Regions from separate parts of the Homo sapiens genome. Here all the other regions are linked to region 4. Evidence: fine-mapped expression QTL. A gene starts in region 4. Each other region holds a variant in brackets. All regions are shown on one strand. Distances are from middle to middle.

What was found.
Region 1: its variant is fine-mapped to the expression of SYT17 in whole blood (TOPMed, PIP above 0.99).
Region 2: its variant is fine-mapped to the expression of SYT17 in whole blood (TOPMed, PIP above 0.99).
Region 3: its variant is fine-mapped to the expression of SYT17 in thyroid (GTEx, PIP 0.98).

The regions. Positions count from the first base shown.
Region 1 is chr16:19,216,084-19,223,965 of GRCh38, reverse strand. SYT17 (synaptotagmin 17) reads right to left here. Exons shown (of 8, transcript NM_016524.4): 6 at 801-921. Among named protein-coding and RNA genes, the nearest start is that of SYT17, 52 kb to the right of the region's middle. The variant T/A (reference allele first, on the strand shown) is at 5,810.
Region 2 is chr16:19,206,150-19,214,031 of GRCh38, reverse strand. The region is part of intron 5 of SYT17 (synaptotagmin 17); the gene reads right to left. Among named protein-coding and RNA genes, the nearest start is that of SYT17, 42 kb to the right of the region's middle. The variant A/C (reference allele first, on the strand shown) is at 2,641.
Region 3 is chr16:19,378,074-19,385,955 of GRCh38, reverse strand. The region is part of intron 1 of LOC105371114 (a long non-coding RNA gene); the gene reads left to right. Among named protein-coding and RNA genes, the nearest start is that of TMC5, 36 kb to the left of the region's middle. The variant G/A (reference allele first, on the strand shown) is at 3,520.
Region 4 is chr16:19,164,037-19,171,918 of GRCh38, reverse strand. It overlaps SYT17 (synaptotagmin 17), which reads right to left and starts at 3,679. Exons shown (of 8, transcript NM_016524.4): 1 at 3,258-3,679. The coding sequence starts at 3,272. RefSeq lists an enhancer at 3,095-3,842 and a silencer at 4,034-4,283.

The sequences.
Region 1 (7,882 bases), 52 kb before region 4:
CTTCCCTAAAGCCACATCATTTGTAAGCCACATCATTTGACTCCTAAACCCTTAATGATTTTATCATACTGACTCTCCCATCGTGGTGAGTCTGAAACTCTTCAGTCTTAATACCATTGCCTCCACTGGCCCTTTCTAAGCCTCTGTTTTTATAATGTGGCTTTTGAGAATGCAAGGTGTCTTCTAGCTGTCACCTTATTGCAAAAGTAATTTATTTTAGCTACCGCACTTAGAGAAGACAATAATTCCACCACTGAGCTGAACAGATCCCTGACTACAGCTGCTTTCACAGTAATATCCTTTGCTGTCATGGAAGAAGCAACATGCAGATGGAATGGAATCTGTTCCGTTCCATTAAAAGTCATGTTTGAATGGTTTTTGCTATAATATACACACTTTAAATACAAGTCTTTTCAGAGTTGGAATTCATAAAAATTTATGGCACACATGAAATGAGCTGGCGAAAAACCTTAGGGTGTGTCCTCCACGCTCATTGATTAGAATGGATAGTCAATGCACACTATCGCCACCTGCAGGATGGCGTCTACATTGCAGGAATAGCATTTGGAAAGGCCAAGTCACTTCCTTGGGTTCAAATAGGTTTTAAGTTTCCAGTAGTTATCACAACCAGTCTCAGTCAACTCCCCAATTCCAATAGGGTTACTAAGATGGCATCATTTACCTGCCTCATCCTGAGATGAGTAATGCTCATCCAGGATACGGAAAAAGAAAACTGGGTTCTCCACACAAACACAGATGCCCCATTAATAAAGTGAGAGAAGAGGGGAATCACACGGTACCTGAACCTTGGCTCACATCTGTCTGAAGAAGTTGCTTGGCTCGAATGACATCAACATTCAGTCTGCCAGCACTTGGGAGATAATTCAGTGACAGAAGCAGCTCCCCCAGCTCCACTTCATTCTGTAGAGAAAGGAAATGATCAGGAAGTTGCCTTCTCCTTTTATTCCTTTTGCACCCACCATACAAGAAATTGATTGCAGCAGCTCACAAACAGGTTGCTGTGAGCGCATCAGTTGACAGTGGGAGCCTCTGTGTGTGACTTCTTTTCATCTCTGCCTCTAATTATTGTGGTCCATCTATCTCTGAGTTTTTTCCGCTCTTAGATCACTCAACAGCAACAACAATAACAACAAAAGCAGCAATAATTTTTTAAAAAATGCTTCACTGCCATGTACTACGCTAAGCGCTTTACATGTAATGACTAATGAGTCTGTGAGGTATTAGTATTAACTCTGTTTAACAGATGAGGAAACCGAGGCTCACAGGGTTAAATAACATGTCCAAAGCCACAGCAAGAAAGTGGTAGAGCTGGTACTTAAACCCAGGGAGGCTGATTTGGTTCCAGATACTCTGACTGCTGTTATTCTGCCATCCAATAGGATACCTGGGAGGTAGAATGCCCTGCAGAGGAACTGAGTGAGAAATCTGTTCTTAACCTGGAGTCCCCAGCAGATCCCACGCTTCTAACCTCACGATAGCAACACTCGGCACAGTGACATCCCTTGTTGAAGAGTACCCATCCCCTTGATGTCAGCTCTGTCACACTGTGGAAAATTCCCATGAACACCTAAGTGCATGACTCCATACTGCCAAAGGTACCTAGAAAACAGGAGGCCTCCCACTTCTCTGTCCCCTTTTAAAAAAAAAAGTATTGTAGAAAATTTCAGCCATATACAAAACAATAGACTAGCATAACAAATCTCCATCTATCCGTCACAAAATTGTAACAATTATCGACATTTTGCCAAATGGTATTTCACCTATATTCTGACTTGTGAAACGTTTTAGCTGAATATTTTAAACTAAGCCCTCGATATGGTGTCATTGTACCTGCATATCCTTCAGAATGCATCTTTAACTGATGAGGACATTAAAACAAGCATTTTAGTGTGGGAAATTTCCAGTCATATTCAAAACCAGACAGAAGAGTATACCCCACCATCTTCGTACCCAAACATCATTCAGCTTCAAAAATTCTCATCCCATGGTGAATCTCCCCTCACTTACACCTTCATTCAACTCCCCATATTCCTCTGAAGTAACTCCCAGTCATTATATTATTTGTAATATTTCAATATGTATCTTTAAAGGGTAACATCTCTATCTATCTATCTAACTGTCTCATCTATCTATAATCTAACCATCTATTATCTGTCAGTCATCTATTTATCTATGTCTATTATCTATCTTTATCATCTATCTTTCATCTCTATCTTTTTTGATGCCAGTCATTTCAACAAATTAATGCCAAATGCCTAGCACAATACCCAGCGGCTCTAGAACAATGCCTAGCACATAGTAGATACTCAATAAACATCTACTGACAGGGTGAACAGTCAAACCAAAAGATTCCTGTACTGAGTGAGTTAGTCCCCAAACAAACAAGAAACAATCTCGCATGTTAACTCAGAAGTTGCTAACAAACAGCCTGCAGGTGTATTTTGTTTGCCCCACATCACATTTTAACTTATAATTACTTGTTAATTATTATACAATTCAAGAATCAGGCTATTCCACATTTTTAAAAAATGTGGGTTTCTTGCCTTGCTTGAAAAACAGGAAGATCTGGTAACGCTGGCATTCCCACCAGGCAAGTGACAAAGATTCTTTACTTGACCAAACTTTAGTCAGGCTCCTAAACCTCCTAGGCCCATCAGTGCACCACCTTGTAAAATCCAGTTTCTGCAAAGAACGCTGCTAAGTCAGTTTGGTCAGATTCCTCATTCTCTCTCTCTCTTTTTTTTTTTTTTTTTTTTTTGAGACAAGGTCTCACCCTATCACTCAGTCTGGAACAATGGCATGATCATAGCTCCCTGCAACCTCAAATTCCTGGGCTCAAGGGATCCTACTACCTTAACATCCTGAATAGCTGGGATTACGGCATGTGCCACTATGCCTGGATGATTTTTTTTTTTTTAAGAGTTGAGGTCTTCCTGTGTTACCCAGGCTGGTCTTGAAATCCTGGCCTCAAGTGATCCTCCTGCCTTAGCCTCCCAAACTGTTGGGATAACAGGCATGAGCCATCATGCCCAGACAGGTTCTTCATTCTTCGTCATCCCTCAGGTAATGTCTGATCACCCTGGCCTGTCTCCAGCAAAAATCCTGCTAGGTTGATTTAGCCAGAGTCCCCCTTACTCCTCTGATGCTTCCTCTTAGTAATGTTTTTAAAAAATCCCTGACCCCCGACTTTGCTCCATGGCTATAGATTCCCATTTGTCTATGCTGTATTTGAGGCTGAGCCTAGTTTCTCTCTGTGACTGAAAAATCCCATTACTGTGGTCCCTGTACATATCATGATGGTCCTCAATAAATTCTGCCTTGCCATACTTCAAGAAGTGTCATTGAGGACCAGGTGCAGTGGCTCATGCCTGTAACCCCAGCACTTTGGGAGGCCAACGTGGGTGGATCATCTAAGGTCACGAGTTCAAGACCAACCTGGCCAACATGGTGAAACCCCATCTCTAGTAAAAATACAAAAATTAGTCAGACATGGTGGTGTGCACCTGTGATCCCAGCTACTTGGGAGGCTGAGGCAGATCACTTGAATCCAGGAGGCGGAGGTTGCAGTGAGCCGAAATCACACCACTGCACTGCAGCCCAGGCACCAGAGCGAGACTTCATCTCAAAAAAAAAAAAAAAAAGAAAGAAAGAAAGAAATGTCATTGAATAATTTTCTTTAACCCAACATCTAGCCACAGAGCAGTGCAGTGCTCCTTTAGATGGGACCTGCCCCCTTCACATCATACCTCATCTGTCCATTTCTGCCCCTTTACATTCCTGCTGCCCTGCCCTGGGTATCCAAGTATGGAGATTTTCAAAATAGGAATGGTCAACTGAGTGTCTTGAGTAATAAAAGAAGTTCAGCCCCTTTTGCACTGTTGCTAGGGGTTTCCTGCTGCTTCTCAAGGGCTTGGAAGATGCGGTGTCTTTAGGGCATGACCCTGCTGACACATCTACTCTAGTATGAGCAATGCGGAGAATTCTCAGGAGCCCAGGCCATCCAGGTCCTCCTGGACTTTGCTCCTCCCAGGTTTATAAGTCACAGTGATATTTCCTTTTATTTTAAAACAAAACAAAACAAAACAAAAACAAAACAGAACAAAAAACAGTTTACTATGTACCAGGACTAAGGATACACCAGTGAGAACCGTCCCTGACTTTATGGAACATACACTCCTGTGGGGGGGATGGATAGCACACAGATTTTAAAAAATACATAAATGAGATGATTTCAGGTAATGCTAAGTATTAGGAAGAAAAATATAGCAGAGTGAGAGAAAGGAAGAACATTTCTTGGGTGATAGCAATATGCTATATCTTGATTGTGGTAGCAGTTACGTGTGCATTTGCCAAAAATCAACAAACAGTAAGTTCCGCCTCAATGCAGTTGATTGAAAGGGAGTGATTTGAAGTAAGCAAATGTGGCAAAATATTGGCGACTTACGACATCTGGGAGATGGACACATGGGTGTTTGTTTTATTATTATTATTATTATTATTTTTTTTTTTTTTTTTTTTTTTTTTTTTTTTTTTTTTGAGACGGAGTCTCGCTCTGTCGCCCAGGCCGGACTGCGGACTGCAGTGGCGCAATCTCGGCTCACTGCAAGCTCCGCTTCCCGGGTTCACGCCATTCTCCTGCCTCAGCCTCCCCAGTAGCTGGGACTACAGGCGCCCGCCACCGCGCCCGGCTAATTTTTTGTATTTTTAGTAGAGACGGGGTTTCACCTTGTTAGCCAGGATGGTCTCGATCTCCTGACCTCATGATCCACCCGCCTCGGCCTCCCAAAGTGCTGGGATTACAGGCGTGAGCCACCGCGCCCGGCCTTGTTTTATTATTTTATGTGGGAAATATTCCCATTAAAAACATAAAATAAATATGAAAAAGGAAAACAAGACAAATTAGGCAGTGTAAGAGAATGGATGGGGTTCGCGTGGGAGCTGCCCTTTCAGTCGGTGGATGGGGTAGGGTTTCTCTGAGAGGCGAGGTTTGAAGAGGAATGAGGGAGGAAAGAGGGATAGGGACTCATGGGGCAGAGGGAACAACATGTGCAAGGTCTGGGATGGAGGGAGGGAGGAATAAACCCGGCATCACTCAGTCAGTGTGTTCAAAGGAACAAAGAGAAGGCCAGTGTGGGCAGAATGAATGGATTCTAGAGACGCCTACAGGAACCAAGGCAAGCTGCCCAGTGGTTGATCCCAGGGGCTCTGCCCAATCCTGGCAGTCTTCACAGAACTGGAAGGAGGTGGTGAGGCCATCTTCTGGGCCCTCAATACCTAAGAGCCCCTCAAGCCACCTCTGCAGCCTTCAAGTGTGGATAGAATTGTTCCTTCCCTCCCCTGGGGCCATTGATCGAACCTTCAACAAGGCACTTCCTGAAGTCATCCTTTTTCTAAGAAGACTGAGTGTTTTTCATCTTAAGAAAGCAAAGCTCTTTTATTCCTTCTTCCCTTTGCAGATACAAGCTTGCTGTACTCTCTACCCATCCCATCCTCCATACACAGCATGCACAACAGGGATTTCAGGTTGTACTTTTCCAGGGAACCATTCCCATTGATCCGGCCACTGTTTCTGTCTGCCTTATCTGGGGAGTGATCAATTTGTAAAACTGTTGTCTGGAGTCAGGGGAGCAGTTGATAGAAAGTAAAAAAGAGGGCTAATTGTGCAATAGCAAAGGATTCATTGATTCATTTAATAAACGCTCATGTAACAGGTACTAGGTCCAAGCACTTGGGGATGTCACGATTATGATTGTTACAGCAAACCTTTATGGAGAAATCACCATAGTCC[T/A]GGCACTGTCCTGGCACTAAAGCTGAATCGCATTTCTTTTCCTTAACAACTCCAGAGGCTTCCATCTTGCAGATGAAAGAATTCAAGCTTAGAGAGCTTGAGCTGCATGACTTGCTCCAGATCATATATCATAAACAAAAAGAACAAGGTTCAAACTCAGCCCATGGTTAACCCTTACACAAGGTTTCTGGTGATTAAGCAGCAATCCCAGACATCAAGCAACTCAGTATCTATTGGTGGAGAGCAAGGAAGATATAAAAACAAATCAAAATTCCAGGGGCTGCACACCCACTAGGATGGCTATAATAAACACACACACACAAAATCATAAGCAGTGTTGGCCAGGATGTGGTAAACAAGAACGCTGTATACTGCTGGTGGTAATGAAAACTGGTGCAGCTGCTTTGGTAAACAGGTTGGTGTATGACCCAGCAGTTCCATTCCTAGGTGTATACCTAAGAGAATAGGAAACATGTCCACATGAAAACTTGTACGCAGATGTTCATAGCAGCACTATTCACAATAGACAAAAGTGGAAGCAGCCTAAATGTCCATCAACAGATAGATAAACAAAACATCACCTATCTATGCAATGGTAGGTTATTCATTCATAAAAACAATGAAGCATTGATACAATGTAGACAAACCTCAAAAAAGTGAAAGAAGCCAGACACAAAAAATCACATATTGTACAGTTCCATTGATAAAATATCCAGAATAGGTAAATCCATAGAGATAGAAAGTAGATGAGTGATTGCTAGGATCTGGGAGGTGGGGGAAATATGGAGTGACTGTTTAATGGATACAGGGTCTCCTTTGGGTGATGGGAATGTTCCATATGGAACATTCCAATTATGGAATTCCATAATTCCAGAACTGGAATTAGATAGAGGTGATGGTTGCACACCACTGAGAATTTACTAAATGCCACTGAATTGTATATTTAAAATGATTACATTTATACTATGTGAATTTCACCTCAATTAAGAAATAATTGCAAACATATGGAAAAAAGCTCATCATCACTGGTTATTAGAGAAATGCAAATCAAAACCACAATGAGATATCATCTTACACCAGTTAAAATGGCGATCATTAAAAAGTCAGGAAACAGCAGATGCTGGAGAGGATGTGAAGAAATAGGAAAGCTTTTACACTGTTGGCAGGAGTGTAAATTAGTTCAACCATTGTGGAAGACTGTGTGGAGATCCATCAAGGATCTAGAGCCAGAAATACCATTTGACCCAGCAATCCCATTACTGGGTATATATCCAAGGATTATAAATCATTCTACTATAAAGACACATGCACATGTATGTTTATTGTGGCAATATTCACAATAGCAAGGACTTGGAACCAACCCCAATGTCCAACAATGATAGACAGGATAAAGAAAATGTAGCATATATACACCATGGAATACTATGCAGCCATAAAAAAGGATGAGTTCATGTCTTTGCAGGGACATGGATGAAGCTGGAAACCATCATCCTCAGCAAACTAACACAGGAACAGAAAACCAAACACCGCATGTTCTCACTCATAAGTGAGAGCTGAACAATGAGAACACATGGACACAGGGAGGGGAATATCACATACCAGGATCTGTTGGGGGTTGGGGGGCTAAGGGAGGGATAGCATGAGGAGAAATACCTCATGTAGATGACAGGTTGATGGGTGCAGCAAACCACCATGGCATGTGTATACCTATGTAACAAACCTGCACGTTCTGCACAGGTACCCCAGAACTTAAAGTATAATAAAAAAAAAAAAAAAGAAATAATTGTAGGGCTCAAGTATTAATCAGCAATATAAATGAAACCCAAGACAGACTGAAGCACAATCTATTCTTGGGAGGGGCATGGTCAAGGAAGTCTTCATGGAGGAGGAGGCATTTGAGTTAAGCCTTGATAAGTAGGATTTAGTCCAGCAAATATTGCAGGGAAGGGTGCCCCATACAGATGGAACAGAATGAGGGAAGCCTTCACTAAAGCCCCAATACTCTTTGTTGTGTTCTGATCCTGAATTTATCAATATTATTATATAAAAGTTGATATGGTTTGGATGTGTTCC
Region 2 (7,882 bases), 42 kb before region 4:
TGCCAAACATCCTACAAGGTACAAGACAGCCCCCCTCAACAAGGAATGGTCTGGCCCAAAATATCACTAGTGCCAAAGGTGAGAAATCCTGAACTAAGCCTATAAATCTTGGGCTGATTCAGATTTTTTAAATACATAACTGTACCCTGAACAAAATTTTAACAGGAACCGAAGACTTGGAACTTTTGGTATAAGAACAGTTCGTCAGGTGCAGTGGCTTGAGCCTCTAATCCCAACTACTCGGGAGGCTGAGGTGGGAAGATGGGTTGAGGCCAGGAGTTTGAGGCCAGCCTGGGCAACAAAGCAAAACCTTCCCACCTTCCATTTCTAAACTTTCTTTATTTTTATTTTTTAATTAGCTTAGCATGGTGGCATGCATCTGTGGTCCCAGATACTCAGGAGGCTGAGACAGGAGGAATGCTTGAAGCCAAGAGTTTGAGGCTATCTGATGCGAGAAGCTCCTCTTCAAAGGTTTAGCTTGTTTAGTTTCCTTGTTCTTTGTTCTCTACTTTTAAGGCCAAACTTCCTTGCTCTCTGTACCTCCCTGTCTTGGTTTCAGTAAACAACTCTTCCACTGGTCCTTATCTACAGAGCCTACATCTACTACCCACTCTGTAAATTACCCCTCCCATCACAGCAGCTCTTCCCACCAAAACTGTCCTTCCTGCCAGTGTAACCGCATTCCCGCACTTTCCAAGTTAGCCAACCAGGTTCAGCTTAGATTGTGTGGTCCAACTCCAACCTGTGGAGGCAGGACACAGTAGCAGGGACAAGCTACGTTAGGGATAAAAACCCCTTCCCTCCTTTGTTCAGTGCACTCTCATGATGACTAGACCTGTGAGAAACACCTTCCTACAGAAGTAAATTTTGCCTTACTGGGAAATCCTTTGTTTTAGTGCTCATTTTCTTTGTGACACTGCACATTTGTTTCTAACAAGGCTTTAGTAAGCTATGATTGAACCCCTGCACTCTAGCCTGGGAGGCACAGCAAGACCCTGTCTCTTAAGAAGAAAGAAAAGTCTATTCACTGCCTCCACTGAGTCTGTCTTCAGTCCCCTCTGGATCTGAAGAGGCCAAAGCACCAGCCACAATCCAGAGCCCAGAAAGATCCAGCTAAGATTTCCTTCCTTCTTCTTTCTCCTTAAGCCATTCTTTTTCACTGCAAAGTGGACATCCAAGCACCAAATACAAAAATCCTCCTAGGAAGTGGGTTCAGCCCTCCCAAGGAAAATGGATTGCTTGTTCTGGTAGGATCTCCAACTCTGTGAAGTCTTCCTTATCCAAATTTAGTGAGATAAGATTGGAATGTCAGAGCTGAAATAATTTAGACCAATATTCTGGTTTTCTAAAAGAAAACGGAACCATGCCATTACCTCACTTCCCCGTTTATTTCTTATTTATTTATTTATTGTGACAGGAATCTCGCTCTGTGGCTCAAGTTGGAGTGCCCTGGCACAATCTTGGCTCACTGTCGCCTCTGCCTCCTGGGTTCAAGTGATTCTTGTGCCTCAGCCTCCCGAGTAGCTGAGATTACAGGCATGAGCCCCCATGCCCAGCTAATTTTTGTATTTTTAGTAGAGATAGGGTTTTACCATGCTGGCCAGGCTGGTCTCGAACTCCTGACCTCAAGTGATCTGCCCACCTTGGCCTCCCAAAGTGCTGGGATGACATGTGTGAGCCACCATACCCGGCCTCACTTCCCTGTTTAAAACCCTCCATCTCTCAAAATAAAATTCAAAGTGCTTAGCCTGGTCAACAACAGGGTTTGTCAACCTCAGCACTATTGCCACTTTGGGCTGGAGCATTCTGTGTTGTGGGAGCTGTCCTGTGCGCTACAGGAAGTTTAGCAGCATCTCTGGCCTCTACACACTGGATGCCAGCGGCATCACCCCTCTCCCCAGTGGTAAAGTCTCAGAATGTCTCCAGACATCGTCAAATGTCCACTGAGGGCAAAAATCACCCAGTTGAGAACTAATGGTCTCTAAAATAATTTATCTACGGGATCGAAATGATTTGATCCAAATGATTTGATTCCTGCCTACCTCTGAGACTTCACTCACCAACCGCCTCTGCCTTCTTTCTATTCTTTAAAAATACAAGATCATTGGCCAGGCACGGTGGCTCACACCTGTAATCCCAGCATTTTGGGAGGCTGAGGCGGGCGGATCACGAGGTCAGGAGATCGAGACCATCCTGGCTAACACAGTGAAACCGAGTCTCTACTAAAAATACAAAAATATTAGCCGGGCTTGGTGGCGGGCGCCTGTAGTCCCAGCTACTTGGGAGGCTGAGGCAGGGGAATGCCGTGAACCCGGGAGGTGGAGCGGAGCTTGCAGTGAGCTGAGATCCCGCCACTGCACTCCAGCCTCGGCGACAGAGCGAGACTCTGTCTCAAAAAAAAAAAAAATACAAGATCGTACCTGCCCCAAGGCTTGAACTTGCTATTCCCTGGGAATCTCAACTCAACAGTCACCTCCTCATCTAAGCTTCCCATTAACACTCAGTTGAAAACACCCCTCTGCCTCCATCATTTCCCATCACACCACCTTGTCATTTCCTTCACGGTACTTGGTCCTTACCTTTTTCTCCATAAAGGCAAAGAAAGTGCCCATGTGTCCACTACTATATTCACAGCACCAG[A/C]AACAAATCCAAGATCAAGCAGTGCAGCCCCCAACACAGAGGCTGAGCTGCTGCCACACCACGGGCCGAGAGGGGTTGTCAGCACGATGTTCCACCCCCTGTCCTATCCAACCCCCACAGAATCGAAGCCAAGACAGGAGAAGGAACTGGGTGACAGGCCCACTTCTACCTCGTCCCTTGTGGAAGCGATGTCACAAATAAACAGGCCTCATTTCCTTTCTTGTAAGAGCCCGATGCGCTTAATTTGGTCGAACCACGTGGGGTGGGCTAGGGAGAACCAAAATAGACAATCTGTAAATTACTCAGATGAATCCAGCAGCCGGCTTGGGCAAATGTGGCTCAGCTCTCTCCTCTCTACCCAGACAAAAATTCTCTCTCCCGGCAGCCTTTCAACACAGTTAATTTCTAATCAATAAAAAGGAAATCAAAGAAAATCATCTGGGACAAAAGACATTTTCTGGAGATAGCAAGAGCCCAGCTCTCCTCCTGACAGGTTTGCTTTGAACTCCTTCTCTATGGTCCTTTCGCTCTCTCTCACCTAGCAAAGGGTTTCAAATGTGCGCACACAAATTTTAGTGAAGCCCAAACACAGCTGCTCTGCGCCCCCTTATGCCTTTGCTCTCACCGGTTGGATAAAGTCTATTGTCTCTTAATCTGCTGCACAAACAACATTAAAATAGAAATGGATTTTTTAAAAAGCAAACTCCAACCGCAATGCCAGTGCTTTACACATTTCATCAAATGCTTTCACTTCCTTTTCTTTCTTCTTCTTTCTTCTCTTCACTTTTTTTCCCAGTCTTTGTCAATACCTCAACCCTGTATTTGCATAGCTGCATTGACAATACAGTCACATTCTGAAATACCCTTTAAGAAAAAAAAAGGGTATTTAAAAAAAAAAAATACCCTTTAAAAAAAAATACCCTTTTAAAAAAAAATACCCTTAGATCAGAGGGGAGAGGATAAAGAGAAGTGGGTTAAAGGGTACAAACATACAGTTAGTGAGAAGGAAAAAATTCAATGTTTGGGGCTGGGCACGGTGACTCACGCTTGTAATCCAAGCACTTCGGGAGGCCAAGGTGGCAGGATCACTTGAAGCCGGGAGTTCAGGACTCCTGCCTCAAGCAAGACTCCGTCTCAATTAAAAAATAATAATAATAAATGTTTGATAGTAGAGTAGTGTTACTATATTTAACAAAAATGTATTGTACCAGAATGATAGAAGCCCTAAATACTATGACTTTATCACTATATATTACATATGTAACAAAATTTCATGTGTACCTCATAAATTTGTACTAATAAAAATAAAATAATAAAATATAATAAAACTAAAAGAATTACACACACATTTTCCATGTGACTATCTAGACATTATAAGTGTCATTATAAATGTTCACATACAACATTCCATTAGGCTGAAATACTGTAACTTATATTAACCATTTTCCTATTGCTAGATACTTAGGGTTTTTTGTTGTTGTTGTTGTTGTTTTTGTTTTGTTTTGTTTTGTTTTGAGACAGAGTCTTGCTCTGTCTCCCAGGCTGGAGTGCAGTGGCACGATCTCAGCTCACTGCAAGTTCCGCCTCCCGGGTTCACGCCATTCTCCTACCTCAGCCTCCCGAGTAGCTGGGACTACAGGCGCCCACCACCACGCCCGGCTAATTTTTTTTTTTTTGTATTTTTTAGTAAAGACAGGGTTTCACCATGTTAGCCAGGATGGTCTCGATCTCCTGACCTTGTGATCCGCCCACCTCGGTCTCCCAAAGTGCTGGGATTACAGGCGTGAGCCACCGCGCCCAGCCGAAATGTTGACTTTCTATGTGAGTGCAATGCCCTTCCTCCATAAGCCCCCAGTGAGGCTGACAAGCTGCATTTCACACTGGATTATATTGGTCTGTTATTGTCAGGCTTTTCATTAGTCTCATCTGATGGGTATCTTGTGGGTTTAATCTGGGTTTCCCTGACTGCTAAAGAGGTGAGCACCTTGTTGTGTTATCAGCTACTTATGCTTTCTCATCTATGAAAACCCTGCTCATTTCTTTTTGATCATTGTGTATTTGTCTTTCTCTTATTAATTTCTAGAAGGGCCTTTAAGTATTATGGATACTATTATTCAGCAATTACATGTTTTTATGGGTTGAATTATTTCCCTCCCCAAAATTCATATTTAATTTCCAACCCCCAGGATCTCTGAATGTGACCTTATTTAGAAATAATGTCCTGGCAGGGTGCAGTGGCTCGCGCCTGTAATCCCATCACTTTAAGAGGCTGAGGCAGGCAGATCACTTGAGGTCAGAAGTTCGAGACCAGCCTGACCAACATGGTGAAACTCCATCTCTACTAAAAATACAAAAAATTAGGCAGGTGTGGTGGTGGGTGTCTGTAATCCCAGCTCCCTTGAACCCGAAAGGCAGAGATTGCAGTGAGCCAAGATCGTACCACTGCACTCCAGCCTGGGTGACAGCGCGAGACTCTGTCTCAAAAAAAAAAAAAAAAAAAAAAAAAAGAAGGTCCTTGTAGAAGTGATTAAATAAGATAAGGTTATACTGGAGTAGGGTAGGCCTTAATCCAATGACTGATGTCCTGATGAAAAGAGGACATTTAGACATGCACACAGGGAGAATACCACGTGAAGATGAAGGCAGAGATCTATAAGCCAATAGACACCAAATATTGCCAGCCAACCACCAGACACTGTGACAGAGGCCTGGTACAGATAATAGCTTTGCCAACACCTTCCTGACATGATTTGGCTCTTTGTCCCCACCCAAATCTCATGTGGAATTTTAATCCCCACATGTCAGGGGAGGGACCTGGTGGGAGGTGATTGGATTGTGGGGTGGATTTCCCCATGCTGTTCTCATAACAGTGAGTGAGTTCTCATGAGATCTGACAGTTTAAAAATGTGTGGCACTTCCCCCCTCACTCTCCTGCTGCCATGTAAGCCGTGCTTTGCTTCCCCTTCACCTTCCACCATGATTGTAAGTTTCCTGGGCCTCCACAGCCATGCAGAACGGTGAGTCAACGGAACCTCTTTTCTTAGTAGTGCCCAGTCTCAGGTGGTTCTTTATAGCAGTGTGAAGGACTAATACACCTCCAATAATTGCAGAGAGTAAATTTATGTTCTTCAAGCCACCAGTTTGCGGCATTTTCTTACAACAGCCCTAGAAAACTAATATATGTGTATAGCAAACGTATCCTCCCAGTCTGTGGCTTGCCTTTTAATCCTTTTTACTATGTTTCCTGATAAGCAGAAGTTCATCATTTTAATGTGGTAGGATGCATCCCTCTTTGCCTTCATTGGTTCATACTTTATTTTCTGACTTTTTAAAGAGGTGCTTTGCTATACTAAGCTCATAAAGATCTTTATTTCCTTATAAAACTTAAAGTTTGGCCATTCATCAGTTCCTGACCATCAGGATTTGATTTTGGTCTGTGTTATGAGGTAAGGCTCCATTTTCTTTCTTTCTTTCTTTTTTTTCCTGTTTTGTTACAGACGGGGTCTCACTGTGTCACCCAAGCTGGAGTGCAGTGGTGTGATCACAGCTCGCAGCCTTGAACTCCTGGCCTCGAGTGATCCTGTTGCCCTGGCCTCCCCAAGGATTACAGGTATGAGCCACTGTGCCTGGCCCCATTTTCATTTTTGAGGGAGTGGCCACCTTGTTCCCTATCTTTCTGCTCCACGAAGCTGTGAGCTCATTGAGGGTAGTGACCTTACATAACTTTCCCCCAATGTTGGAGGTGAGGCCTGGTGGGAGGTGATTGGACCATGGAGGTGGATTTCCCCCTTTGGTGCTGTTCTCATGATAGAGTTCTCAGGAGATCTGGTTGTTTAAAAGTGTGTGGCCCCTCCCCATTCTCTGTCTCTTCCTCCTGCTCTGGCCATATGAGGTATCTCTTTCCCCCCCTTGCCTTCCACCGTGATTGTAAGTTTCCTGAGGCCTCCCCAGCCATGCTTCCTATGCAGCCTACAGAACTGTAAGTCAATTAAACCTCTTCTTTATAAATTACCCAGTCTCAGGTATTTCTTATAGCAGTGTGAGAACAGACTAATACACCTGTAAATATGACTGTCTTAGTCCATTTTGCATTGCTATAGAAGAATAACTGAGGCTGGGTAATTTATAAAGAAAAGAGGATTAAGTGGCTCGTGGTCCTGCAGGCTGTACAAGAAGCATGGCACCAGCATCTCCTCTGCTTCTGGTGAGGGTCTCAGGCTGCTTCTACTTTTGTCAGAAGGGGAAAGGGAGCTGTCGTGTGCAAAGATCACAGGGCACGAGAGGAAGCAAGAGAGATGGGGAAGGCACGAGGCTCTTTTAAACAACCAGCTCTTGTGCAGAACTAACAGAGCAAGAACTCACTTACTACCATGAGGATGGCACCTAGTCAGTCATGAGGGATCCACTCCCATGACCCAATACCTCCCATTAGGTCCCACCTCCAACATTGGGGATCACATTTCAACATCAGGTTTGGCAGAGGAAACACATCCAAACTATAGCAATGGGGGTCCACAGTCCTTATTTGGAAATAGGAGTTTTGCAGATGTAATTGAGTCAAGATGAGGTCGTACAGGAGTAGGGTGGGCCCTATATCCCATAGGACTGGATTTATGAAATGGGGAGAAGAAACATGGACTAAGACACACAGGGGAGAATGCCAGGTGAGGACAGAGGTGGAGGCTGGAGGGATGCATCTCTCAGCCAAGGAGTACCAGGATTGCTGGCAGCCATCAGAAGCCACAGGAGAGGCCTGGGGTGGTTTCTCCTGTAGAGGTCTGCAAGGAATCAACTCGGCTAACACCCTGAATTTGGACTATAAGCCTCCAGAGTTGTGAGGGAATAAATTCCTGTTGTTTTAAGGCACCCAGTGTGTATTACAGTGGCCCCAGAAAACTAACACTCTGGTGGACTAAGACAAAAGACAAAGAGTTACAGACCTCCATTGCAATCCCAGCTCTCCCACATACACTGAGTGTGTGACCTCAGCCATGCCGCTGAACCTCTCTGAGCCTCATTCCTTTCCTCCTAAGAAAAGGAGGACACATACCATATATATACCCCATGAAGTTCTAGTGGAGAAGGCTGATCTTTCTTGAAATGTTTCCGTTTGTTCACATGACACTGTCCGCTCCTGCTCTTCCTCTTACCTTCTAGCTTCTATTTCTTGGTCTCCACAGTTCTTGTTTCTTCTCTCCTGCCCTTAAATGTAGTTTTCCCCAGAATTCAACTCCTAGTCACC
Region 3 (7,882 bases), 210 kb before region 4:
GTTAGAGACAGGGTCTCACTCTGTCATCCAGGCTGGAGTGCAGTAGTGTGATCACAGCTCACTGCAACCTCCACCTCCTGGGTTCAAGAGATTCTCCTGCCTCAGCCTCCTGAGTAGCTCGGGTTACAGTTGTGTGCCATCGCACCCAGATAATTTTCGCATGTTTAGTAGAGACAGGGTTTTGCCATGTTGGCCAGGCTAGTCTCAAACTCCTGGCCTCAAACGATCCTCTTGCCTCAGCCTCCCAAAATGTTGATTACGGGCATGAGCCACCATACCCGGCCTATACTGTAATGTTTTAAATGAGTATTTTTATTCCTTCCTCCATCTTTTATTCTGAAAATTTTCAAACCAACAAAAATTTGCAAGAACAGTACAATAGACAACCACATTCCTTTTATGTAAGTTCACTAATTGTTCACATTTTACCAGACTTGCTTCTTCCTACTTCTCTCTGAGCCATATGAGAGTTAATTACAGACTTTTTGAAACTGCATTCCTGTATTCGTTTCTTGTGACTGCTGCAACAAATTATCATACATTTGTTGGCTAATTCACAAAGCTCCACCATAAATCACATTGCTAAATTATCTGATGTCACCCAAGGATCCAGGTAAATAAAGATGTCCATCTCAGGGGCTTAGAGATCACCCCCCAGGAGCTGGAGGCAAAGGGATAGACCTCTCTGTGAGTAAAGTAATTCTTCACTACATAGTAATGTTCACACTTTTTTTTTTAGATTAGGGTCTGAAATCTTCGGGAGACATCTTTTAGCCTACCTCAATCCCAGCTACTTTTCTAGGTACCTCCTGAGAACAAAGACATCCTCCTAAATGGTCGTCTTCTATTCCTTCAAACAGGAGATTTAAGAGACTGTTGTTTCCTGAAGAACTATCCAATTTCTATTCCTGTAAAATTGTTCCTCTTCTGGGAGTGGGAAGTCTCCTTCAGGAACCTGGTTCATTCTTCTGCTCCTGGAAGAAAAAAACTGAGGTCTCCCTGGCTCAGGTGCAGATCCAAGTCAGGGCCAGGTGCCAGGTGCCAGGTGCCAGGTGCAGCCAGCAGGAAGTGCTGGGTCTTCTCTCTAAGGTCACTGCACAGTCACCACTCGCCTCCATCACATTCCATCTTCCATACGTGGAACAACTGGGTTCCACCCATCCCTTTCCAGATCTGCAGGCTGGGACTGGGGGTGGGGAGGTGGCCTCCAGTAAGGAAGGGAAGAGGGAGGAATTGTCTCACAATAGAAATAGCCATCATTTCCTGACACTTCCTCTGTGCCACAGACTTAAAGATCATTTTTTAAAATTTGAGCATGTATTAGTAATATGTCTATTTAGTAAAAAAAAGGGGTAATCAGTAAAATTTTCCCTGCCCTTGTCCTGAGATGTATGATGCATTTACAAACATATACACATATATTCTTGGTTTTTTAACCCCAAAGGTGGCTTACCTGGCATCTTGTTTTGTTTTGTTTTGTTTTGTTTTGTTTTTGAGACAGTGTCTCACTCTGTCACCCATGCTGGAGTGCAGTGTCATGAGCATGGCTCACTGTAACCTTGAAATCCTGGGCTTAGCAATCCTCCTTCCTTAGACTCCTGAGTAGCCAGGACTGCAAGCATGTGCCACCATCCCTGGCTAATTTTTACTTTTTTATTGTTTGTAGAGATGGGTGTCTTGCTATGTTGCCCAGGCTGGTCTTAAACTCCTGGACTCAGACGAACCTCCTGCCTCAGCCTCCAAAAATTCTGGGGTTATAGGCATGAGCCACTATGTCTAGCTTCCACCTTGCTTTTTCACTTCATAATATACCTTCTATAGGCTGGGCGCAGTGGCTCACACCTGTAATCCCAGCACTTTGGGAGGCCGAGGCCAACGAATCACGAGGTCAGGAGATCGAGACCATGCTGGCTAACATGGTGAAACCCCGTCTCTACCAAAAATACAAAAAATTAGCCGGTGTGGTGGCGGGCGCCTGTAGTCCCAGCTACTCGGGAGGCTGAGGCAGGAGAATGGCGTGAACTCCGTAGGTGGAGCTTGCAGAGAGCCGAGATTGCGCCACTGCACTCCAGCCTGTGCGACAGAGACTCCATCTCAGAATATTAATAATAATAATAATAAACCTTCTATAAATATAATTTTCTATATATCTACATATAGAGGTAATTGCTGCACAGATGTGTCAAAATTTATTTAATCCATCTCCTATCGATGGAAATATAGGCTGCCTCTAGGCAATTGTTCTTGCCACAGCCCTGAGACCTAAGCTCTAGTCTTATATCCTCATTTTATGGATGAGAAAACAGGCTCAGAAAGGTTGTGGCATGTGGTCCAGCTCACACAGGAAATAATCGGAAACCAGGTTCTCATCCAGTGACCTTACCCTTAACCACAATGAAAATAGCTTTTATTTTGAGCCAGGAAATTACTTACCCACACACATAATTTTCTGTTTTAGAACAGTTTTAGATCTACAGAAAACCTTTGAGGATAAGATAGAGACTGCGGCCCGCAGTCCACCACGGTAGGGCCATGGGGAGTGCTCATAGGGAAGGTGTTCCTGGCATCCGAGGGTGCACGGAGGGAGCCGGGTGCTATAAGCTGTGCCCGGTCACTGCCGCCTCCCACCCTCAGCGCCGGGTGCTCCCAGCTCTGGGGGATAGCAGGTGGTAAGGGTATCTTCCTTATTCCTGCTCCCTCCTCCAAAGTGTCCTCATCCAACCCAGACGGAGCCAGCCGACATCTCAGCTAGCCTCTCAGCCAGACTCTCAGCCAGCCAGCCTCTCACTCAGCCAGGAAGACTGCCCGCTAGCCTCTCGACCAGCTTCTCAGCCAGCCCACCAGCATCTCAGCGGGCCAGCCAGCCTGCTGGCAAGCCTCCAAGACAGCCACTCGGCCAGCCTCCCAGCCTACCCCTCACCCAGCCTCCCAGTCAGCCACTTAGCCGGCCAGCCATTTAAGACTGAGCCCAATCTCTCTCCCATTGCAAAATTTCATTACTATGTTCCCTATACCTATCATGATGGTCCTGAAAAATCTGCCTTACCGTATTTTAACATGTGCCATTGAATAATTTTTTCTTCTACAGAGGTAGATGCTATTATTAGAATCACTTTATAGAGGAGGATAAAGAAGTACAGAGAGTACTGTCTCAGATTCCCTGTCTCAGGTGCCCGGGCTCATGTACAGTCTCAGGTGCACTGCCTCTCTCTTTAGCCAGCTGGTTCCCCAGCCAACGGTGCACCCTAAATCCCCAGGGAATGACAAAGTTGAGAGATTGGGTGAGGCTCAAATGCCATGGATGTTTTTAGTTATGAAGAGCTCAAGTCATCTCTAAACCTCCCAAAAGCCAGGGGTAGTCATTTCACAGAGCAACCAGTATGGTCCTTGAGGTCCCTCAGGCATGAACCTGGCTGTTGACTCTGGGTCTATTATAGAAATTCCAGATGAGAACTCCACTTTCAAGGGCAAGCACCAAGCCCTCACTGCCACTGGTAAGCCCTCTGTTCTTATCAGCAA[G/A]CTGTGAGATTATGCAGTTTTTGTGTTTGTTCTCCTTGTGGTAGATGATTTCAAATTACATGAGAATAATTTATGACCAATTTGGGTTGCATTATTCAATCAGGATTGCAGGGGTGGCAGAATCACCAGGTCAGCTCAGGCTTTGGGTATTTCTTTTTTCCTTTTCTTTCTTTTCTTTTTTTTTTTTAAGACATGGTCTTGCTCAGTCTCCCAGGCTGGAGTGCAGTGGCATGCTCATGGCCCACTGCAGCCTCCACCTCCTGGGCTCAAGCAATCCTGCTACCTCAGCCTCCCTAGTACCTGGGACTACAGGTGTGCACCACCATGACTGGCTAATGTTTGTTTTTAGTAGAGACAGGGTTTCACCATGTTCCCAGGCTGGTTTTGAACTCCTGGGCTCAAGCGATACACCTGCCTCGGCCTCCCAAAGTGCAGGTGTGAGCCACCATGCCAGGTGGGTATTTTCATTAAAAAAGGCAAAAGCCCTTGCTGATGGGAGCTGCATCAACTAAAACATGAATTCACCATAATTGGTGATTTTTGCCCCCTGAATCCTAGTCATAGTCCAAGTGAAATAGCAAGACACAAACAGGGGCATTGGCCAACAGCCTAGTTCTGAAGGAGATGGAGCAGATGTGGACACGTGGAGTCAGGCTTCCAGAAGTCATCAGGTGGATGTGTGAAGTCAGGCTTCCAAGGCAGCTCACGCGCATGGCTGTTGGCTGGGGGCCTCAGTTTCTCACCACACTGATATTCCCACAGGGTTGCTTCAGCGTCCTCACAACAGGATGGCTGACTTCCCCAAGAGAGCAGCTCAAGAGAGAGCAAGGAGAAAGACACAACATCTTTAATGATCTATGCTTGGAAGCTATATGTTGCCACTTTTGCAATATCCTACAGATCGCTTAGCTCCATCCAACATGGAAAGGGATCAGACACGGGCATCATTGCCAGATGATAATCCCTGATGGTCATCTTGGATGCTGGCCACCACAGTTACATTTGAGGTGAGTGTGGCAGGAGCAGAGCACATCTGGGGCAGATGTGGCAGGAATGAAGGATGGAAAAGGAGCTAAGGTTGTGAGTGTCTATTTAAGCCAAAGATGAGAGTTCTAGCTGGGAATAAACAGACATTACTAATATAAGAGTGTGACATTATCATGTTGGCATTTTATTTTTATTTTATTTTATTTTTGAGACAGGGTCTTGCTCTGTCATCCAGGCTGGAGTGCAGTGGCACAATCATAACTCACCGTAGCCTCAAACTCCTGGGCTCAAGTGATCCTCCATCTCAGCCTCCTGAGTAGCTGGGACTACAGGTGTGCACAACCATGCCCAGCAAAAAAAAAAAATTTTTAATCAGAGTCTTGCTCTGTTGCCCAGGCTGGAATGCAGTGGTGCAATCATCACTCACTGCAGTTTTGACCTCCCCAGGCTCATGTGATCCTCCCACCGCAGCCTCCCAAGCAGCTGAGACTACAGGTGTGTGCCACCATGACCAGCTAAGCTAATTTTTGTATATATATATATATACATATTTTGGTAGAGATGTGGTTTCACCATGCTACCCAGGCTGGTCTGGAACTCCTGGCCCTAATGCCTGCCTTGGCCTCCCAAAATGCTGGGATTACAAGCATGAGTCGCTGTGCCCAGCCTCATGTGCTCATTCTGAGGGAGATATTACAGGATTTGGTGATTGAATGAAGGAGGAGGAGGGAAAGGAAAATATTTCTGATGACAGTGAGGATTTTAACATGTTATGGTTTCAGAAGACACCATCACCCAGGGAGGCTTGAATATATCACCTGACTCAGTTACTGATATGCATCTCTCCTTCCTTAGCAAATGTGAAAACCTCAATTTTTTTTCTTGTTACCCTGCTCTTTCAGGCTGCTCTCCACCCCCAAATGTACTGCCAGCTGCTGTTTATTTAGGAAACGAAAGCTAATTTTAGTGTTAGCTTTAGCCAACCCTAATCTCGAAGCAAATCAGCTGCAAGTACAAGGGGCTTCAGAGTCAAACAGAAATACCTTTGGACTTACCTGCTGGACAAAGTTATCTCAATACTCCCCAGCACCGCTCTACTATGGATCTAAAAATAATGATTTTCCCTGCTGAATTTTGAAAATATCATGTTCACTGTATTTGCTTTATCCTCCACCTGGGATGCTCTTCCTTCAGTTCTCTGCTCAAATGTCATCGTATCAGTGACAGATGCTGAACTCCTTATGTAAACTAGCACCCCACTCCACCTTCTTGGGTGGAAAATCAACCACTTTGATTTTCTTCATAGCACCAATTGCCGTCTGACAAATGACATATTTACTTGGCAAGCAGTTTATTGTATCTCCTCACCCCTTTCATAGATTACAAGCCCCATGAGGGCAATGACCTGTGTATTTTGGTCACTGCTGTATCCCCAGAGGCCCCTGAAACAGTGGAATACCTCAATTTCTATTTGCATAATGTCATCCAGGGCTGGCCAAGGTGGAAGGCCTGGGATATGAAACCTTTAAACAAACTGCTGGTGGCAATGTTGCTTGAAATCAACTTTCTGAAAAGTAATTTGACTTGATACTCTCTTTAAAAAAAAATTAAGGTCAGGTGCAGTGGCTCATGCCTGTAATCCTAGCACTTTGGGAGGCCAAGGCAGGAGGATTACTTGAGCCCAGGAGTTCAAGACCAGCCTGGGCAACATAGTGGTACCCTGTCTCTACAATTTTTTTTTTAAATTAGCCCAATGTGGTGGCATTCGCCTGTGATCCCAGCTACTTAGGAAGCTGAGGCAGGTGGATCATTTGAACCTGGCAGGTCAAGGCTGCAGTGAGCCATGTTTGCACTATTGCACTCCAGCCTGGATGACAGAGAAAGACCCTGTCTCGATTTTAAAAATTTAATATTTTTAAACTTTTATTATCTTAAAAAAATTATATATATATGTATATATTTTGTGTGTGGAGACAGGGTCTCACTATGTTGCTCAGGCTGGCCTCAAACTCCTGGCCTCAAGTGATCCTCCCTCCTTGGCCTCCCAAAGTGCTGGGATTATAGGCATGAGCCACTGCACCTGGTCTTACTTTTAAATTTTTAATTAATTTATTTATTTTTAAGAGGTAGGGTTCTTGCTATGTTGCCCAGGCTGGATTTAGACTCCTGGGATCAAGAGATCTTTCTGCCTCGGCTTCCAGGGTAGCTGGGACTGTGGTGTGCAGCACTGCACCTGGCTGGTTCTATTTTTTTTTTTTTTTTTTTGAGACAGAGTCTGGCTCTGTTGCCCAGGCTGGAGAGCAGTGGCACAATCTAGGCTCACTGCAACCTCCATATCCCAGGCTCAAGCCATACTATCACCTTGGCCTTCCAAGTAGCTGGGACTACAGGTGCATGCCAGCTAATTTTTGTAATTTTTTTTTTTTTTTTTTTTGTAGAGATGGGGTTTAGCCATGTTGCCCAGGATCCTGGGCTCAAGCGATCTGCCCACCTGGGCCTCCCAAAGTGCTGGGATTGCAGGTATGAGCCACCACTCGCGGCCTTGATTCTCTTTCTATATGTTTATCCTAAGGATGGAATCAGCATTGTAGATAAATATTTAGAACAGAGGTTGGCAAACCTTTTCTGTAAATAGTCAGATTGTAAGTATTTGAGGCTTTGTGGGACATAAGGTTTCTGTTGCAACTACTCCACTTTGCCTTGAAAGCAACCATAGACGCTATGGGAATAAATGCACGTGGCTGTGTTCCAACAAAACAGGCAGCAAAGTGAATCTGGCCCACAAGCTGCAGTTTGCTGACTGAGATTTAGAACAAAATGCCGATTATAATGGCAAAGATTGTGAATGTCCTAATTATTCAACAACTGGGAGTTACTTAAATTATACAGCATCCACAAGATAAAAAAGAAGTTACAGCCATTAAAAATGGTATTTTCAAAGAAATTGTAATGAACTAGTGATGGGCTCAGAGCATAATTATGTCAATGAGAGTCAATTTAGCCATTAATTAAGACTCTGAACTCTGGAGTCAGAGAAATTGAAACTTCAAACTTGAGCACTTTCTAGCTGTTTGACCTTAAGCAAATTGTTTAACTTCTGGGAAACCTTTCCTTATTTAAGAAATGGAAACAGAAATATTATCTATCTTGTAAGGTTGTTGAAAGATAATGCATAGATCATATTGCTTAGCATACAATAAGTGCTTAACAAATCATTGTTTCCAAGTGGGGAATTAAAAATGGAATTATTTTTATAGGTTCGTGGATTTCAAAGCTGGAAGGAAACCTTGTAAGTCCCTCAAAATAGGTGCTCAGTAAATGTCTCCCAGTCTGTTTCTAAAAGGCAAGGGAAGGACTTTGATTGGTTCATTGAGTG
Region 4 (7,882 bases):
TGTTAACATCTTTTACCACTTACCAATTTCCACCCTCCCCCATCCCCTTTCTTTTAAACAAAGAAAGTAGATCTTGTCCAGAGGCTTGGAGACAGCCACGTCCACCTAGAATTCAGTAATGTGGCATTATTCCCATTGGGTTTATTCTTCTAGTTGCCTTCTGCGATGTCACATGATCTTGGTTTCCTATGATATTAGTGACATAATGTTTCCTTTTCATATGATTTTTTTAAAGTAAAAATAAAAATGAGCCCATTTATAGAAAAAAAATTAAGTTAATAATAGCATAGGTAGGGCTGGGCGTGGTGGCTGATGCCTATAATCACAGTACTTTGGGAGGCCAAGGCGGGTGGATCACCTGAGGTCAGGAGTTTGAGACCAGCCTGGCCAACATGGTGAAACCCCCTCTTTTCTAAAAATACAAAAAATTAGCCAGGCGTGGTGGCAGGCGCCTGTAATCCCAGCTGCTGGGGAGGCTGAGGCAGGAGAATCACTTGAACCTGGGAAGCAGAGGTTGCAGTGAGCCGAGATCGCACCACTGCACTCCAGCCTGGGCGACAGAGTGAGACCCTGTCTAAAATAATAATCATAATCATCATCATCATCATCATCATCATCATCATCATCATAGTATAGGTGGTACGTGGCTTGTGAAAAAATTGAAATCCTCGAAGTGGTAAGGGAATAGCAACAGCTTGGGAAATAGTCAAAGGCACTTATCACAAACTCTCTAAAGCCAAAACTCAAACCATACACAGAACAAGACCCAAAGGTGCTGAGGGGCCACGCAACAAGCTGAGCCAGGAAGTACTAGAGTCCTAGTCTCACCATCGACTGATCATGTGACTTGGGCAAGACAGGGGGCCTCTCTGAGCCTCGGTTACCTCTTCTTTAGTGGAAAGGCTACTCTATACCTCAAAGGCGTGCTGTTGAGGTGGGACAGGACACTGACTATGCAAATACTTGCGTGCGGTCCAGCTGAAAAATAAAATGCACCCTTTCTGTGATGAGAATTAGGTGATTGTCAAGACCTAGTGGAACCCAGTAGGCACTGGGTATTGTCCCGGCAGGTACAGCAGGGCACAAAACAGCAAAATATTATACCCTCATAGGGCTTGCATGAAAAAGTGCTTTAGAATGTTAGGATAAAGTGATACTTTTTCATAATAATCTATGACCATTTTCTGAATACAGGGAAGCATTTCCTAGACATGTGGTGGTCAAAAGAGGCCATTTATGAAACCAAAGTGAACAGAGACAAGGTCACCTCATGGCCCTGCTGAAAAACAGCCTCCCCAACTTTCTCAAAGCCCAGGTGCAAGATGAGTGTCAAGGAGCAGAGAGAAAGCAAAGAAGATGAAAGAGGGTGCCCTGACATTCCCAGGCATGCTGAGTCTTTCTGGCATTGGGTCTCCTGGGCTCACGTGTTTGACACCGATGGAAGAGAACCAATTCACACCAGAAAGAAAGAGGAAGAAAGACAACCCATGCATTCTAAACAGAGGTTGGCAAACTAAGGCTCGCAGATCAAAACCAGCCCCGCAGCCTGTTTTGCTACAGCCCTTGAGCTAAGAATAATTTGTGAGTTTTTAAAAGGTTGAAAAAAAAAAAAGATGAATGCCTCTTGACTCGTGCAAAGTATACAAAATTCAAATTTTGGTGCCTGCAAATAAAGTTTTATTGGAACACAGCCACGCCCACTCATTTACTACTGTCCATAGCAGTTTTGGTGCTATAGTCAGAGTGGAATAGTTGTGACAGAGACCATGTGAGCCTCCAAGAGAAAAAAAATAGTATCTGGCACTTTACAGGACAACAAAGTTTAACACCTTGTTCTAGAAGGAAAACCAACATCACTGGGTCATCGCCATATGAGATGCTTAACATATCTACCACAGTCCCCTCTTGAGATCCCACCTTGACCCCTAAGCAGCTATGTGGCCTTGGGCAAGTCACTTAATTTCTCTGTGCTGAAGGCGGCCATTAAGAACTCCAGGAGCCGGTAATCATGTTCATTTCTCACTAAATTGCGCACCCAGAGGGGCAGGAACTGTGCTGTTTTCATCACTGTATCCCCAGTGCCAGCACTTAGTAGGCGGTCGCCCAAGTGTTTGTTGGGCGACTACTCAATAGCCCCTGGACAACATTCAGCACACAGTGGGTGGACAGTAATGTGACCTTCATTGAACTTGAAGAGAAACTGGCGATTCCACGAAAGGGAAGCCAATTCAGGGAATCTAAGGCAGGAGATGAATGGAAGAGGCTCCGCCAGGTGACACAGCACAGAGTTCCCGGCAGGCTGAAGCGTCTGAGGACACGATGAGGGGATATGTGACCCAGAGGGGAATGGGAGGACCAGCAGCACCCCCAGCTGTGGCTGAGGGGACAAGATGTGAGCCAAGATGCACCCTGGACGTGGGAGTCTGTAAGCTTCTCTGCCCAGCTCAGAGGCGCCAGCGCCAGAAGCAAGCAGCTCAACGGGTCTCACTGCGGGTCTGCCTGCTTGACCTTGGCGCTGACCTGCGGTCACTTCCCTTCTTGCAGAGGAGAAAGGTCTTTTCACCAAGAAGCCCGGCCCACCCCTCCGCCCCCTCCCCCCAAAAAAGGCTGCTTAGAAATTATTTCAGAATTATTTCAGCCCAAGGATTCTTGGGGGACGTTTCTTCAAGGTGAAGAGGGTCCACATCTCCCAGACCCCAATGCAGCGGAGTAAAGTAACAGGCTCCCTTCTCTTCACCAGCGCGCCTCTGGCCTCTGGGTGTCCCCCACCCCTCAGCACCCAGTGCCCAGGAGAGACGACGTCCTTGTCCCTCCTGGTCGGAACAGCTGCCTCAGGCTCGCTCCGCCGGCCAATTAGCCGGAGCCGTCACCACGGCAACGGCAGCTGGCGGGCCGGGTGGCTGGCGCGCCCCGGGCCGCCCTCCCCACGGCCCCTCCCCTGGGGTGGGGTGCCAAGGAGAGGGAGGGGGCAGGGGAGAAGAAAAGTCCGCCCCACCCCCCATTCCCTCCCCAAGAGGCAAGGGCGCGCGTTGCAGAGTACACATAGGACCCTCCATCCCGGGGTTTGGGGGTCCCCAGTCTCTCCTCCCGGGGCGCACCCCTGTTGCTGCACAGGTTGCCCGCGCACGGGCACCCTTTTTCTCGAAGCAAGTTTGTGGGAGCCTAGCCGTGGGCCCTCCCTTCCGCGCGCTCCCAGCCGGAGGGGGCGCGGCACCCCCTACCCGCACCCCGGACCTTGCCCCCAGCCTCAGCCCTACCTGGATGTACGCCATTTTCGCCCGCGCGCACTCACTCCGGCCCGGGCATGGCGCCGCCACGGCCACTTTGCCCTCGCCAACAGCGGAGGGGGAAGAAAGCAAAGGGGGAAAGGAAGAAAAAGGCAGCCGGTGGCCCCAGACGTGACTGGCGTGGCTGATGAGCGGCGCCCGCCCCTCCGCCGGCCGCCCCGTCCTTGCCTTTCCCTGCGTTCCGGCTCTCGGAATCGGGGCCGCCTCCCCGGTTCGGAGATATCGGGCGCCCAGGGCCCCCGCCTCGGCCTCCCTCGCTGTCCCGTGCTCCCCACCGAGGCGCTCCCCAGGCTGGAATAAGGCCGGGGCGCCTGGGCAAGCAGCCCGGGGCAGCTGCGGGGACTGCAGCGACCCCAGCGCAGGCGGGGCCGGAGACGCCGGGGCCGGAGCGCGCAGGAGGCGGGGGAGGGGATGGGAATGGGGAAGGGGGTGGGAGGGGGCGGTACACAGGTCAGCCCATCCTGCTGGCACGGGGGCTGGCACCTACCGAAAGCAGCGCCCCCGGGGCAGCCGTGGAGCCGAGGGGACACAGTGCAGCCTGCCATGAAGTCTGCAGCAGGGAGGGTCCTTCCCATCCAGCCCTCTCCCCAAACTGGGTTGGAAAAACTTTATTCCCGCCCCACCCGACGCGCCTAGCACGGTTGCGGTGAGGCTTGCAGAGGCTGCGTGGATGGGAGCCTCAAGTTAAGGTGGGCGTAGGGCGTCCCAAACGGAGGTGCTGCGTCCAGGGCTGCAGGGGGCGCGCGGAGAGAGCGGAGCGCCCCTTTACCCTAAACCTGCCGGAGTTGCGCCCTGGACGCAACAGGTCTAGCGCGGGGCGGCCCGGCAGCGCCACCCAGCGTCGTGCCCGGCCTCGTGCGCTCCTCTGCCCACGGGCAGGCGGCCGCCAGCGAGCGTGCGCCCCGGGGCGTGTCCACCGCCGCCCTCCTGCCTGTCCTCGTGGCTGGGGCGCCCTGGACCCAGAGGCCTCCATCAAACCTCCCAGCCCAAGGCCTCTGGCTCTCCACTCAGAGATTCGAGGTGGAACATTGCCCTCCGCTGGATTTCTTATTTTATTTTATTTTATTTTATTTTATTTTATTTTATTTTATTTTATTTTATTTTATTTTATTTTTGACACAGGGTGTCACTCTGTCACCCAGGCTGGAGTGCACTGGGGTAATCTTGGCTCACTGAAACCTCCGCCTCCCAGGTTCAAGGGATTCTCGTGTCTCAGCCTCCCGAGTAGCTGGGACTACAGGCACATGCCACCACGCCCACTAATTTTTGTATTTTTGGTAGAGAAAGGGTTTCACCATGTGGGCCAGGCTGGTCTCGAACTCCTGGCCTCAAGTGATCTGCCTGCCTCGGCCTCCCAAAGTGCTGGGATTAGGGGCGTGAGCCACTGCGCCGGGCCGGTTTTCTTTTTAATATGCCCAGTCATCTCCTGTTGCCGGACACCAGCTTATCAGCATTTTAATTTTAACCTCCCAGTGCCTCTTTTTCCTCAGTAAAAACAGGAGAAAATCTCCACCCTGCCTATCCTCCAGGGCTGATTTGTGGGAATAAATGAGAAAATGAATATGGGAGTAACAAAAGATGGATATTCAGATGCATATATTTTTTGTCTAAAAATCTAGCAGACCTATACATTTTTTAGTATGATATATTTAGTTTGTAGCATATAGCACGTAACGCATATTGAGTGCTTATGATTCTGCAGGCATACACGCCTCAACACTTCACAAGCGTTATTTCATTTCAACCTGCAGTACCTTGATCACTCCTATTAGGTAGCACCTGTCCAGCCAGAGTAGGCACTCAGTAATTGTTTTTGTTGCCTTATTCACTCTGCTTCCTGAGGGAGGTGCTATGATTATCTCCAATTTATGAGGGACTGCAGCCCAGACAGGTAAAGCCTCTATGAAGGCCTGACAGCTGGTAGCCCAGGGCACTGACATTTGAACCCACAAGTCCAGCAGTGAACCCAAAGTGGCCACTCCTAACCACTTTGTGGTATTTATCCACAATCTTTCTCCAGCACTGATGGCAAGGCATGCCAGGTGGGGAGTGAGCCTCACAGAGGAGGATGCCTATTGGAACGGGTGCTCCTTGGGGGCACTTGAGGGAGTTCGAGGAATTTGCTAGGTGTTCCCATAAGTAAAAATAGTTAACCCTTTTTCACCTGAGGTCAGGAGTTCGAGATCAGCCTGGCCAACATGGCGAAACTCCGTCTCTACTAAAAATACAAAAAATAGCCGGGCATGGTGGCAGGTGCCTGTAATCCCAACTACTCAGGAGGCTGAGGCTAGGAGAATCACTTGAACCTGGGAGGCGGAGGTTGCAGTGAGCTGAGATCGTGCCACTGCACTCCAGCCTGGGTGACAGAATGAGATACCATCTCAAAAAAAAAAAGTTAACCCTTTTTGAGGTCTGTGTACCAGGCACTGTTTTCAGCCCTTTACACAAATTTTGATCTTTTAATTCTCTGATTACCATGAGGTAGGCACAAGTACTATCCCACTCTTTAGGTGAGAAAAAAAGAGGCATTAAGAGGTGAAGTTGGCCAGGCATGGTGGCTCATGCCTGTAATCCCAGCACTTTGGGAGGCCAAAGTGGGTGGATCACTTGAGGCCAGGAGTTCAAGACCAGCCTACAAAAAGTTTCTTTACAAAATACAAAAATTAGCCCGGCATTGGTGGCTCACACCTGTAGTCCCAGCTACTTGGGAGACTGAGGCTGGAGAATCGCTTGAGCCCAGGAGATTGAGGCTATAGTGAGCTGAGATCACACCACTGCACTCTAGCCTACATGACAGAGTAAGACCCCATCTCGAAAAAAAAAAAAAGAGATGAAGTCATTTGCCCAAGGCGTGTCATGCCAGGCCACTGTTAACTCCTTTAGGAATAGTACCATGTCCAGGAGGCCAAAAAAGAGACCTAGAGACAGTGAACGAGACACAGGGTTTATTGAGGGAACTTACATACAGGGACAATCCAGTGGCAGCTGGCTGGACAGGAGAACCTCTACTGTTTATATAAAAGCATGCAGTTTATGTAGCATTTTCACTTAGCACCCTCCACCTAGCAACTTCCTTTTGGCCCTTTAACCCAAAACAAAGGGCCTCGATTGTTTATATAAAAAACATGTTTATATAAAAAGCATGCAGTTTATATAGCATTTTCGCTTAGCACCTTCTATCTAAGCAACTTCCTTTTGGCCCTTTAACCAAGGGTTTTGGCTCTTTAACCCAAAACCAAGGGCCTCAATTGCCTGTACAGCCTGCATTCCAAGGGATAGGCAGGGGACCCAGACATCCTTCATAGATAAGGAGTGAATCTCCAGGTTGGCCACTCCCGGATTCCTTAGCTCTGAACTGTGAATACACATTCTTCTTAGACCATAGGGTCGTTCGCAGGGTAAGCTAAGTTCAATTATTGCCGTCAAATGTGTCTGCCCTGCAGGGTGTGTGTGGCTTCCAGGAGCTGGGATTCAAACCTAAACCTGAATCCTTTCCCTAGCCCCTGCACCATGTTGCCTAATAATGCCTGATCTTGGAGGAGGGGGATGACCCCGTCCCCAGAATTTTTTGGTACCTTAATCCCTTATGACCTGAAACTGTCCAAGAATACTAAGCACCTCTCGAGCAAAAGAAGAGGTTATTTAAAATGCGGATAATAGAACCTGCCTCTGGTATTATGAAATGCTTTAAATGTATGCAAAGCACCTGGCAAAATAGGTGTTTGATAAATGCTTGTTGAATGAGCAAATGGGTTGCAACAACAGCTAACATGGACACTTTCAACTCTCAGACAACTGGTTATTATGATTGAGTGTTAAGCCCTTCACATTTGTTTTTGTTTCATCCCTACTGGAGCCTTACAAGGTGGGTACTGTCATGGTCCCCAGTTTACGGGTGAGGAAACTGAAATCCTGAGACGAGAAGCAAAGTGAGTTGCCCAAGGTAAACAGGTGACAAGAGACAGGGACAGGACAAAAATGCAGGTCTGGTTAGCAATAAAGTCTCAACTCATCATGGCTGCACCATCGTCAGATGAAAGAATGGACGAGAAATCAGTTTAAGTCCTTCATCAGGGGAGTGTCAATGAGTTCCAGGATCCCACTGCTTTGCAAGCCTCTCCTGCCTTTCACGGGGACATGAAGTCCAGCTTTTCAATGTAACTTGGACTCAGATCAAGGCTGTGCCTGCAAAGCTGGCACCTTTACAGATCTCAATGAAGAAGGCCCCAATCAGGGAGGTAGACAAATGCATGGAATTATATGTGACCTGTGGTGTGATAAAGGGAGGCTCAGGGGACTGTGGGGTTACAGGTGAGGGGCCCCAACCTCGTGTGATGAAGGATCACAGAAGGTTTCCCAGAGGGGCTGACATTAAGCTGAGTCCCAAAGAACCAAAGATGGGGAGTGGGGCTTATTTGGAAGGTCCATGAACTTAGAAAGAAAAAAAGTTGCATCACCATTGTCACCAACCTCCTTCTGAAATTTAGTGTTTCCTTCCATTATGACTGCAGGCAACCAACCAAAACAAGCTTAGCACTTACTCAGGACTTTGTCACCAACAAAGATCATGTGTAGTCTATCTCATTACACTTGCA